2 separate regions of the Homo sapiens genome follow, and region 2 is linked to region 1. Evidence: fine-mapped expression QTL. Tissue or cell type: pancreas. Region 1 holds a variant in brackets; the other region holds the start of a gene. All regions are shown on one strand. Distances are between the middles of the regions.

The links. PIP is the estimated chance that this variant, and not a neighbour inherited with it, causes the effect.
Region 2: SHISAL2B starts here. The variant in region 1 is fine-mapped to the expression of SHISAL2B in pancreas (GTEx, PIP 0.95).

The regions. Positions count from the first base shown.
Region 1 is chr5:64,643,269-64,646,030 of GRCh38, forward strand. No RefSeq gene overlaps it. Among named protein-coding and RNA genes, the nearest start is that of SHISAL2B, 46 kb to the right of the region's middle. The variant G/A (reference allele first, on the strand shown) is at 1,167.
Region 2 is chr5:64,688,943-64,691,704 of GRCh38, forward strand. It overlaps SHISAL2B (shisa like 2B), which reads left to right and starts at 1,561. Exons shown (of 3, transcript NM_001164442.2): 1 at 1,561-1,872. The coding sequence starts at 1,682. RefSeq lists enhancers at 1-473, 1-274, 1,532-2,032 and a silencer at 1-274.

The DNA of each region.
Region 1 (2,762 bases):
CCACATCTCTGTACACAGTCCTTTCTTTACATTTTTTCTATTTCCTTTTGATTCTTATTATTAATTTTTGTTCTACTTTCTGCTCAAACCTTGACAGATGCAACATCTACCTAATGTCTTTAATCAACCAAATTCAATACATCTTTAAGGGACACGGCATTGTGCAAAGTAATGTGGAATTATGATATGATACACTCTTGCCCTTTAGTTGTTCAGTCCAGTAAGGAAAACGGGAAGAAATACAAATAATTATATATTCATCATACTTATACTCATCAAAGAGAAATGAAAAATATTAAAATAGGATGACTGGTAAACTCACGAAGGGCAGACAGTCTTTAAATTAGCTTTTTTCCCCATTTTTTTACTAAAGGAAGTTTTCAAAGGAAAGTGAATGAGAATATATCTGCCTTACCCTCTGTCATAATTGGGTTAGAATAATTACCTTAATAAACATAGTTCTGGACCTGGGACTCATTCCACAGCTATATCTTGAAATATATGTATTTCAAGATGTTTGATAGTTGATATGTGCCAATAAGATGTATAGCAGAGTCCTAGATCCTTTAGTATTAATGAATGCCTAAATGTTATCTTAAAAAGCAGGAAATACCAGACATTCAAGAATTTACAGACTTAGAGACATCCCAGGATAGAGGGAAAGGAAAAAACTTTCCTGACTCTATTCTTTTTTTGTCTACCCTCGTTAGCTTTGTCATGTGAGAGGTTATGGTATTTTGGCAGGAGAAGAGTGGAATTTGTAAACCAAGATTTTTTAAAATTATATGGTAGGCAGTGAAGACTTACCAGTTAAGAGCATGGATTTTGGAGCCAGGCCAACTGCTTGGGTTCAAATCTTGACTCTGCTACTTCTTTAAGCAAGCTGTTTAGCATCTCTCTGCCTCAGCTATGCCATCTGTACAATGAGGATAATAGCAGTCCTTATTTCATAGGATCACAAAGAAAATTAGATGAATTAAGGTGAACAGAGAACTTGCATATAGTACATGCTATTTTAGTATTAGCTATTGTATTTTTGGCACTTATAAAATCATTATGAAAACCTTTCTCTGAATTACATTTGGCCTGGCATGTGGGTTGACTTCCTTAGGATAAAGAATTCCGGCCGGGCGCAGTGGCTCACACCTGTAATCTCAGCACTTTGG[G/A]AGGCCGAGGCGGGCGGATCGCGAAGTCAGGAAATCGAGACCATCCTGGCTAACATGGTGAAACCTCGTCTCTACTAAAAATACAAAAAATTAGCCAGGCGTAGTGGCGGGCGCCTGTAGTCCCAGCTACTCGTGAGGCTGAGGCAGGAGAATGGTGTGAACCCAGGAGGCGGAGCTTGCTGTGAGCCGAGATCGCGCCACTGCACTCCAGCCTGGGTGACAGAGCGAGACTCCGTCTCAAAAAAACAAAAAGAATTCCATGTGGCCAGTCTCTTGAAATTCTGCCAAATGTCTCTGTCTTAATTTATATTTCCCGAGATGAGTCCTGATTGGATATAACACTATGAAACATAGCAAAATTTAATATTAACTTATAAGCTCTTTAAATAATAACTTATACAGAGCTCAAAGAAGGAAGAGATTGTGCTGATTTGGAAAAGGTTAGTAGATGCTTCATGAAGGTGAATATTTGAGATCAGACATTTAAAAATCAATAGGACTGAGGGAGGAAGAAAAAGTACATCTCTGTCCTCTTAGGAAAACATTTTTAGTTACCAGATTGTGCTTGTCTTTTGTTTATAACAGGGTACACTTTCCAAAAGCACTTAATCTTCCCAAGGCCAACACTAATAGGCTCTAATGTTGTCTATTCTGGAAAAAAAAAAAAAAAAAAAGAAAGAAAGAAAGCCAAATAAAGGTTATATAACCATGTTACAAATTTTAATGCTTTGTGTGCCATTTTGCCAGAATTTTATTAAAGACTGTAAGGTCACAATAGTTAGTACCAACTTGAGTGTGTGTGTGTGTGTGTGTGTGTTTGTGGAATACACATGTCAGCCCTTCTCTCCCTGCTTCTAAGTGGTATTCTTCTAGTTTATTTGGGGGAAAGGAGGGTTTGGCTCTTGCCTGTCCTGAGTTAGTTTCACACCACAGCTGCTTCTCTCTGCCTCTGTTAGCAACCCCGTGGGCCATCATTCACTTTACTGCTAGCTGCTACCAGGACACAAGGCCTGCTGCTCCCTTGAAGGGATGTTGCTAACCCCTGTGGGTGTCAGCAAAGGAGTGAGTATGGGACTGGTGTTTTTACTACCCTGACTCTTAATTTCCCCCATTCCCACCCCACTAGGATGTTCTGCCAAATTAAGTTTATACTGAACCATCTAGAGTCAGAGGGAGTTTTCTTCGTAACAACACAACTCAAAATGAGTATTAGATGTCTTTGGTCTTAAGTGTCTTCTGGACATCACACCACTGGAAATTCTTGTCCCTCTATCTTATTGCCAGACTTCCCTCTCCTTCTCCTCCCCAAACCCTCTAATCTTCCTGATTAACCCCAGTATAAAATCTTTGTTTATTATTATGCAGATCAGTATATCCATCTTTTGTTTCATCATCCTCTTTAAGCACATGGCCTTAGGGTCTCTCTTTCAACTCTCAAGCAACTCAGCAAGGTATTTCCCTAAACAAAAACATTTTCCTCCCTAAGACAACTCCAGTGCCAGGTGCTCAAAGGTAAACATGATGAAATGGAGAGGACTCCTCACAGAGCACACCTATAGTTGAATATGAAAGGATCAGCTCAGATAGTTATTCCTC
Region 2 (2,762 bases), 46 kb after region 1:
CAAAAATGTCTCCTTATTTCCAGAATATTCTCTAAAGGGGAGTATCACCTTTGTGACACAAGAAGAAGAGAAAATAAAAGATGTAATCGATGGCTATCTTTTGGTGCGGGATCAGCCCCACCCTACTCCCTATCAGAACTCCTCCTGCCTGGAGGAAGATAACTGGGGACTAAGTCACAGGGGACTACACAGCAGGCAAGGTCAAGCAATTTCCTAACTGGTTAAAGCCGCAGTCTTAACACTGCCCTTAAGCTTCATATGGTAAAAGGCTCCTTTGTTGGTTTGAACTTCAGAGGCCTCAAGATACTCCAAGCTTGGTGAAATTTGGCCTCTGTGGTCATGCCTGTCTCTGGATTTTTCTGTGTTTTATGTGTTCCCACCAGTCACAATGGTAAGCCCTATAATTCACAAGTTTTGGGTAGAATAATTCGAAGGGTATTGCCTCAGTAGTGGGGAAAAATTCAGTCCTAAAGGCTAATCTAGTCCAGCCTAACAAATATTAAAAACAAACCCGAAAGACTCAAACTGTTTCCTGCATCCCAGTACAAAGCTCAAGAGTATTTATAGGAATGCAAAAACATCCAGTACCCAACAAGGTAAAATTCGACGTCTGGGATCCAATCAAGCCCCTGGCCAAGGGAAGGAAGCAGAAATGAAGAGGGAGAAACAATGCTCTATCTTGTACATTTTATGAATGTTATAATCGCCTCCTCTCCCATCGTAAGACTATTATTACCTTTTTGTTTATACACCCAAGCATTGTTTGGCTTATCACAATAAGCATGCATTATCATCGTTATTTTAAAAAGGCTTTGTGAACAAACCAATCAAGAAAATGGGAATATCAAACAAAAAGGAGACAAAAGAAGTTCCTACAGCACATCAAAACTGACTGAAGGTCTCTTTCTCCCTATTTCCTTTGCCTTTTTTTTTTCCTCTGGCTGCCTCCCTCTCTAGAAAGTTCTCACTTTCTTTACCTTCATGTCTTGCGTTTCTTAAACTTTCTGGATTTTTCAGCTGAACACCGAATGCAACTGCACCATGGCCAGTTGTTACAGGAGACTTTGTTTCTTGTTTTTTATTTTTAAATGGGCAGATCTTAATGTTTCACATTTACTTCTCAAAGAAAGAGAACACCAACTCCGCCTCTCTGGTGTTCAGCTGCCTTTTATCTGGTCCTCTCCTCCACTCCTTGAGTCAATGGCCGGGCAGTTAAGTCTCCACCAGACCCAGTCTGTTTGCCCAGAATCCACCTGCCCTGTCCCTAGACAGGAAAACTGCAACTTAGGCAGCATCTGCCTGCACTGAAAACATGTCCCACCTCTTCTTTTTTCCCTCTGGAGAAAGCTCTTTCTGGCATCGAGTGGGGACAGCTAAGGTCTCCAGGCTGCTGATGAAGTGAGGGAAAGTGGAGGAGAGTCGGCGCCGAGATGGGCGGATAAAAGGAGCGACCGCTCAGCAGCGAGAGGGAGAGGCGAGAGTAAGGCGCCCAGACACCATGTGGACAAGGGGAGGAGAGAAATCAGAGGTGGCGCGCGAAGGCTGAGCGCCCAGGCAGCCAGAGCCCAGATCGGAAGAGCCGAGTCCGGGCAGAGGGGTCCGCGGGCTCTGGAGGTGCTGGACGGGTGCGATCCGAGAGCAGACCGGGGCCCTCGCGAGCCTCTCCCGGCCCCTGCCCGCGATGAGCGAGGCCAGCCGACTGTGCTCCGGCTACTACAGCCTCAACCAGAGCTTCGTGGAGCCCTTCCAGTGCCCCCGGCGCGGCGAGGGGGCAGCGCTCCAGTATTGCTGCGGCTTCGCCGACCTCAAGTACTGCTGCAGCGAGCCGGGCAGCTACTTCCCCTACAAGCACAGCTACATGTGGAGCCTCAGGTGGGCTGAGAGCCCGCGCGTGCGGCGGCTGGCCGAGCCCGGGGCTAGGGAGGCGACAAGCGGAGCCACGCCAGGGCCAGGGAGGTTCCCCCGCGTCCCCGCTATCCGCCCTAGGTTAGGTCCCTACGGAAGGACGCGGAGCCTCTGAGGGCGGGTGAGGGCAGGGAGAGAAATCTCGCCCCGGCTCGGAGCTCCCCCGGGAGCCAGGACAGGAGGCGAGGCGCACGCTGGAGGAGCGCGGGCTTTGCGCCCAGGGCGCACTTGGGGCCCGCCTGGCTGGCCCCGCTGAGTTCCCCGCCCGCCTCCCGGGAGCCGACTGCTCTCCCCTCGCCGGGACCAGTCCCAGGCTGATAGCCCTACTGGTGGAGCGCGAGGACAGGAAGATAACCCAAGGGGAAGGTTTAAAATCCTCTTTTTGGTTTATCTGGTGTATTTGAAGAGAAAGGAGGCTCCTATGGGGCTCTTCTTACTGCATTAACAAGGACCAGAGTATTTTAAGACTCTTTGAGGGGTGTGAAGGAATTGGCTGTGTTCTTTAAAATACATGTATATTTTTAAAAGTGTGTGTGTGTGTGTGTGTGTGTGTGTTCCTGAGGGCCTGTGCAAGCAACTGGGCTTTACGACTTGCACTTTTTGGAGGATCTGACCCCTACCCTGGAGAGAATTGAAGCGACACCAAGAAAGGTACAGCTTTTGGTTGCTATGATTATACACACACTCTGTAGAACAGGACACCCCCTTTCTTGAAACCCGAGCCATGTGGCTATTGCTGGAATGTGAAGAGACTTTCTAAGGTGAGGTCTTTCTTGTTTCTTTTTCCCATAGTGGCAATTTTATTTTACTTATTCCAACTAGTATTGATGTAGACATTTTCATTATGAATTGCTTTT